Homo sapiens: one gene and its partner. The protein of the gene in region 2 purifies or fractionates together with the protein of the main gene of each other region. This does not show direct contact. Each region holds a gene or a part of one and is shown on either strand. Other genes may lie near its edges.

Evidence for each region. The genes of interacting proteins can lie anywhere in the genome.
Region 1: the proteins of PKN3 (region 2) and SPECC1L purify together in Homo sapiens (affinity purification with mass spectrometry; 2 studies listed by BioGRID and IntAct, with this or other methods). This does not show direct contact.

Annotation. Positions count from the first base shown.
Region 1 is NC_000022.11:24,268,707-24,272,522, reverse strand, and holds the start of SPECC1L (cytospin-A), read right to left. Parts: upstream 1,693-3,816; 5' UTR 1,540-1,692; intron 1-1,539. UniProt on the Homo sapiens protein: Involved in cytokinesis and spindle organization. May play a role in actin cytoskeleton organization and microtubule stabilization and hence required for proper cell adhesion and migration.
Region 2 is NC_000009.12:128,700,866-128,704,465, reverse strand, and holds the start of PKN3 (serine/threonine-protein kinase N3), read right to left. Parts: upstream 1,964-3,600; 5' UTR 1,551-1,963; coding exon 1,527-1,550; exon of another isoform or gene 1,042-1,526; coding exon of another isoform or gene 997-1,041; exon of another isoform or gene 352-996; coding exon of another isoform or gene 337-351; intron 1-336.

The DNA.
Region 1 (3,816 bases), on a different chromosome or scaffold from region 2:
TTTTATATTTTTTGTAGAGACGGGGTTTCACCATGTTGGCCAGGCTGGTATCGAACTCCTAACCTCAGGTGATCCACCCGCCTCGGCCTCCCAAACTACTGTGATTACAGGCGTGAGCCAGGGAGCTCGGCCTTGTTATATCTGGTTTTTGTTTTTTTGAGACGGAGCCTCGCTCTGTAGCCCAGGCTGGGGTACAGTGGCGCGAACTCGGCTCACTGCAACCTCCGCCTCCCGGGTTCAAGCGATTCTCCTGCCTCACCCTCCTGAGTAGCTGGGATTACAGGCGCGCGCTTTTTGTATTTTTAGTAGAGACAGGATTTCACCATGTTGGTCAGGCTGGTCTTGAACTCCTGACTTCAGGTGATCCGCCCGCCCCGGCCTCCCAAAGTGCTGGGATTACAGGCATGAGGCACCGCGCCTGGCCTGGTTTTTAATTACGAAGAAAAAATTACTATAGTCCCTTTGGTATCACCTACATTGGCAAAATTGCAGTCCCCCTCCACTCCCTGAAGCCACCAGAAATGACTGCTGTTGTCTACAAAGCCTACAGCTCTGATTTCATCTCAAGATGTGTCCTACTGGGTGACAGCAAATGCCATTTTTTAAAGGCTTGTATCTGTTATAAGCTTGGGAAATATTATCATGGCTTAAGAGGCTCTTTTGACAAAAGAAAACACTGTTCCCTGAAATCACCTGGGCTGTTCACGGGAATCTTTTCCTCGCCCTTCTGGTACTTGGACAAATGATCAAGGATATCAACAAATCAAGGTTCCCCGCATTTGAATGATCACAGAATTTTTGCGTGTTCTGTAAATGGGCTAAAACTACTGGAAACTGATTTCTTTTCGTCATCTCCAGGGCAGCTTGCCCAACGTGCCGCGACTATGATGTCTTAGACTTAACTACTTAAGGTAATACAATTACCAAATTCCTGGAAACGCAAAATTTCCTCAGACAGGTACCGGATTATTCACATCCAACCTGATGCAATTAACCACGTCTCAAGAAAAAAGGACGTTCCGTCCGCCTCGGGCGCCGGCCACAGCAGAAGCAGCACCGGCAGCAGGCCCGGGGTCCGCCGCCTGTGGCCCCTGCTCCTCCGCTCTGCGCCCTCGGGGCCACTGAACAACGCTGTCCCCGCCCCAGGCAAGGGACCCGGGCGATGGGGCGGCAGCCCCAGCCTCTCCCGGAGCGGCGGAAAGGCAAGCACGAGGGTCGCACCCGGCCTGTCTGCACACAGTCAAGCCGCAAGCGGGGTCCCAGAACCAGCTGAACCCCAACACCAACGGACGAAGGCCAGTGGGTCTCGGCGGCGAAGCCTGCGGGTTGTTCCAGAAGCCCCGAAGCCCAGAACGAGGACGGCGCGGGAAGGGAAAGGCGCAGGCGCGGGACACACTGGAGGGGCCCAGGAGCAGAGACGGCGCAGGCGCTGGGCCTGCCGGGGTCTGCGGGGACGCCCGGGCGCGGCAGCGCGGGCGGCGCTGAGGCGATAAACCAACCCGCCAGCGAACACTGCGGGAACCCGGCTGCTGCTCTTACCGCGCTGCACCGCATCGCTCCCTCGCAATCTCCTGGTTTGGGCTGGGCGGTGAGCTCACCCGGTGGCTCAGCCGAGACCCGTTGAGTCCGGCCTCAGGAAAGCAGCCTACCCCGCAGCGCCGCTTGCCGGGCCGCCCGGCCTCCCTCGCGGGCCCCGCCCTTGGCCAGCCCCTTCGCGCCCAGCAGGGCTGCGGCCGTCTGCGCAGGCGTCGTGGAGGCCCCGCCTACATTCCTTCACTGCGCAGGCGCCGCCGTCCCCCACCACCACCCCCTCCCCTTCCCCCATCTCCGGCTCGCGTCCGTCTCGGCACTGGGTCGCGCAGCCGCTCTGCCACTTGGCCGGTCAAGAAAGTAGCCGGCCAGCCGGTGCGCATGCCTCAGGTCTTGGGCTGGAGCCGGGCAAGGCGGGTCCCTTCAGAGGCCCCACTGGGCCCAGCGGAATGATGCTCAGAGTCCGCTAGTCCCAAAAGTTCTCCTCAGCGTGTTTACCGTGTGCCAAGGACTGTGCTATGCATGAGCCAGACAGCAGTGAGGAAAACACAAAGCCCTGTCCTCCTGGCACTCCCGGTACATAAGGGAACAGACAAAAAGAATAAGCGAGCAACATATATGTATATATATATGTATATACATATATATATACGTATATATATATACGTATATATATATGTATATATATACATATATATATACGTATATATATATGTATATATATGTGTATATATATACATATATATATGTATATATATATATATATATATATAAAATATTAAAGAAATTCTGGGGGAGTTCGAGTTCCATCGGCCCCCATCCGGGCCACCCTGCCACCTTAGCGGCTGCTCCTCCCCAGAATGCTGATGCCTAAGAAAAACCGGATTGCCATTTATGAACTCCTTTTTAAAGAGGAAGTCACGGTGGTCAAGAAGGATGTCCACATGCCTAAGCACCTGGAGTTGGCAGACAAGAATGTGCCCGGCCGGGCGCGGTGGCTTAGGCCTGTAATCCCAGCACTTTGGGAGGCCGAGGCGGGCGGATCACGAGGTCAGGAGTTCAAGACCAGCCTGGCCAAGATGGTGAAACCCGTGTCTACTAAAAATACAAAAATATTAGCCAGGCGCGGTGGCAGACACCTGTAATCCCAGCTAGTCGGGAGGCCAAGGCAGGAGAATTGCTTGAACCCAGGGGGCGGAGGTTGCAGTGAGCCGAGATCGCGCCCCTGCACTCCAGCCTGGGCGACAGAGTGAGACTCCTCTCAAAAAAAAAAGAATGTGTGTGCCCAACCTTCCTGTCATGTAGTCCCGAGGCTACTACGTGAAGGAACAGTTTGCCTGGAGACATGTCTACTGGTACCTTACCAATGAGGATATCCAGTATCTCCGTGATTACCTTCATCTGCCCCTGGAGATTGTGCCTGCCACCCTACGCCGCAGCCGTCCAGGGACTGGCAGGCCTCGGTCTAAAGGTCTGGAGGGTGAGCGACCTGCAAGACTCACAAGAGGAGAAGCCGACAGAGATACCTACAGAAGGAGTGCTGTGCCCCCTGGTGCCGACAAGAAAGCCGAGGCTGGGGCTGGGTCAGCAACCGAATTCCAGTTTAGAGGCAAATTTGGTCGTGGACACCGTCAGCCACCTCAGTAGAATTGGAGAGGATTATTTTGCATTGAATAAACTTACAGCCAAAAAGACTTAAAAAAAAAAAAAGAAAAAAATTGTATTATGTCGCAAATGAACCTGTTGCAATGATCATACAGGTTTTTTCCTTTGATAGTTTGTACTACTTTAATAGTTTTTTCTTTTATTACATAATCTTAGTTTCCTAGGAAAACCCCAACTTGGTCGTGATACATGTTTAATCCATTGCTGGATTATTTGCTAATATTTTATTTAGCGTTTTTGCATATATGTCCATAAGAAGTTAGTCCATACTTTTGCCTCCTTGTACTATTTATGTCTGGTTTGGTTTTAAGCCTATACTAAATTCACAGTGAGTTGGGGAGAATTCCATTTGCTTCTTTTTCTGAAAGATTATCTAGGCTGGGCACTGTGGCCTACGCTTGTAAAACTAGCATTTTGGGAGGCCGAGGTGGGCGGATTACCGGAGGTCGGGAGTTCAAGAACAGCCTGGCCAACATGGTGAAACCCCATCTCTACTAAAAATACAAAAAATTAGCCGGGCACACCTGTAATCCCAGCTACTCTGGAGGCTGAGGCAGGATAATTGCTTGAACCTGGGAGGCAGAGGTTGCAGTGAGCAGAGATCACGCCACTGCACTCCAG
Region 2 (3,600 bases):
CACAAAAGCTACGCCGAATAGGGGTTCACACGAAGCCACATGAGAAGGCAGCCAGGGGCCTGGGAGCCAGGGCTTGTTCCCCTGATGTCCCAATGCCACAGGTAGCAAAGCAGAGGCACAGAGAGGAACTGGGGAGGTCTCCGGGTGCCCACTCCCTGCTCAGCTCCCGGGAGGAAGTAGAAGGCTCTCTCACGGCTTCACCCAGGTTGGAGCCAGGAACAGGAACACCTCCTTTCCAGCCGCCAGCATTTCAAACCAACCGGTGCCAAAGGTGACCTCAGGCCGGGTAACCCATGATGCCCCGCAACACGGGCTGTTGCAGGAACCCCATCTTACCTCTCTGTGTTCCATCTTCTCCTGAGCCCAGTGGAAGGGGCCGCAACCCCAGACTCAGGGACCCCCCCACCCCAGACCTCAGCGGGGCCTGCTGGCCCAGCTGTCAGAGGGCAAGGGCGAGGCTCAGGAAATCCTCTGACCGCCCTAGGCCACAGGGCCAGAGCCAAAGACCGGAGCAAACAAAGGTCCCATGGAGCTGGGGGCCCGGCCACCGGGGTCCTGAGTCACCCAGCTGCCGCTGCAGGGCGGAGCCCCGCAGGAAATCGGAAAATGTGTACAAGCTACGTCTGGAACAGGCGGAGGGACCTCCAGAGGAAGGGGGTGGGAGGGGGCAGACCGAGCCCCAGCCCTGAAGGCGGCCTAAACGACTGGCTTGGGCGCTCAAGGAGTCTACACGCACCCCGCAACACCCCCATGGTCCCGTCTGCCCTGGGTTGGAACTCCAACATGGACACACACACCACCTCCTTTCCGCTCTTTGCGGGGACCCACTCCTGTCCGCAAATGCCCCCCTCCCAACCACTCGCTCCGGAACAGGACACCACCTCTCCCTCCTCAGGAGCAGATAGACATGGCCTCGGTCCTCCGGGCCCACGCGCACCTACTGCCAGCTCTGGCAGGAAACCCAGCCCCCTCCGCATTCTAGAACCCGCTATGTACCCAAAGGTTCCCGCCCTGGGGCGGGGGAGGCCGCTCCCCTCTCATCTACGCTCCCCTCGTGCCTCCTGTGCTCCGGGAAGGACTCCTGCCACTGCCAAGCGCGCACAGACTGCGCCCCCCGCTGCGCGCACATTCTAACCCCCCCAGGCCCCTGTGCCCCGCCTTTCTATCCCGGCTAATTCCCGTCGGCCTTGGAGCCCCACCGAGGAGAACCGACTTAAGGACACTCTGGGGACCACCCTGGTGGCGCACACTGCGGACTCAGCCGTCCTCGCTCACGGGCTGGTTGGGGTTCAGTCTCCGGGTCAGCCGCGGACTGATTTGGAGACTGTGCAAGGTCCAGGAACCACCGAACCCGGAGATCAGGTCTGCTCTGCGAGGGCGTCGCGGGGCCGGGGCCAGGGCAGGGGCAGGGAAGGGGCGCGGGTGAGGGGAGGATCGGGGGAAGCGGCCGCGGTTCGGGGCTCCGGGGCGATGACAGAGGCTTTCTCGCACCCCCCGGGCCCGCGCGCCCCTCCCACGCCGTTCACCTGCCGCGGCGCCCCCTCCTCCATGGCGCCGCTCCGGCCGCTTGGGGCCCTTCTCTCAGCCACTCCGGTCCCGGAAGCCGCAGACCCTCCGCCAGGACTTTCAAACTTGAAACTTCCCGGGAAGCGGCGCCGGAGACGCGGGATCGGGCGCCCCCTCCCGAGACCCGCTGGCCCGCGGGACCAGCGCCGCCTCCCGTCCGCGCCGATCCAGCGCCCGGGACCCCACGCCCGAGGTCCCGCGCCCCAGCGCCTCCCTCGGATCCAAAATTCCGCGGGATTCTGGGCCCAGTACCCGGGCTTCGGCGCCTGCGGTTCCCGCTGGGCGTGACCGCGCCTCACCCCCGGTTTGGACGCTCAGGAGGCACATCGCCCGCGCCCAGGTCCTCTGGCCTTCCCCGCCGCGCGCCCGCGGGAGCCGGCCAGTTAGGGACAGGGATGGGGGAAACAGCGCCCCCTGAAGGTTGCCGGGTCGCCCAGCCGGGTGCAGCCGGTGGAGCTGGCCGCCTCCTCTAACTTTGAGCCCCTCTACAACCTGGCTCCCGCCTCTAACGCGCTGGGCCTCCTCGACCAAGCCCCTCAAGTCTCTCTTTGTCTCGCACGTTGTTGGTGTAATGTGGGCTAATCCAAAATTGTCTCTCTCCTCGGAGTGGTTGGCCCAGACTAGATATTAGTCACTACAAGAATGTATACTAGGCCAGGTGCGGTGGCTCACGCCTGTAATCCCAGCAGTTTGGGAGGCAGAGGTGGACGGATCACGAGGTCAGGAGTTCGAGACCAGCCTGGCCAACATGGTGAAACCCCCGTCTCTACTAAAAATACAAAAATTAGCCGGTCGTGGTGGCGGGCGCCTGTAATCCCAGCTACTCAGGAGGCTGAGGTGGGAGAATCACTTGTACCCAGTAGGCGGAGGTTGCAGTGAGCCGAGATCCTGCCACTGCCCTCCAACCTGGGTGACAGAGCGAGACTCCATCTCAAAAAAAAAAAAAAAAAAAAAAAAAGAACGTATACTTGTGGAAAAGTAAATCCTCACCCAAAATTATGATAAATTACAAATTACAGATGAATGAACCAGACCTCTCTCCGGCCCATCTCTTACTCAGACTGAGCTTGCTGGTTCAGCCCGTGCCACTTTTTAGGGCTTTACCCTAAAAAGCCCATCCATCCACACGGGAGAAAAGCCATTTACACCTGGTGAAATAGCCGCCACTATTTCAGCCCAAGGGAGGTGTGCTGGTCACTGCCTAGTCTATGGCGGGCCATTCAGCCCGTCCTGGCATCCTGCGTTTACAGGAGGTTGTGTCAGCACTTCGTGGAGGAGCGTCCTCCAGGAGGTGGGAAGGTGATGAAGGGTCAAATACCGACAGTGACTTGGAACAGACAGGCTCTGGTGCTCTTACTGAATGAAGGAAGCCACATGTTGTGCTTTGCACTAATCACTTCCTTCATAATGGACTGGAAAAAAGTGAAATTGGTGAGCCATGGACAACACTGGGTTGTCCTGCTATGGGAAATCACCCAAGTGGCATTGACATATAAGCAAAGGCAACTTGGCTCTGTGAAACATGCCCAGATTTCATAATCAGAGGCGAAATGTGACATTTACACATTAGAGTTGTTGAGGTCTAGACATTAGCAGAAGCACCTGGCACATAGTAGGTTCTTTGACATGGGGGTTGGCTGGGCATGGTGGCTCATGCCTGTAATCCCAGCACTTTGGGAGGCTGAGGAGGGCAGATCACTTAAGGTCAGGAGTTCAAGACCAGCCTGGCCAACATGGTGAAATCCCGTCTCTGCTAAAAAAAAATTAAAAAGGCAGCTGGGCGCGGTGGCTCACGCCTGTAATCCTAGCACTTTGGGAGGCCGAGGCAGGCGGATCACAAGGTCAGGAGTTCGAGACCAGCCTGGCCAACATGGTGAAACCCCGTCTCTACTAAAACTACAAAAAAAAAATATTAGCTGGGCATGGTGGTGGGTGCCTGTAATCCCAGCTACTAGGGAGGCTGAGGCTGGAGAATCACTTGAACCTGGGAAGTGGAGGTTGCAGTAAGCCAATCTCGCCACTACACTCCAGCCT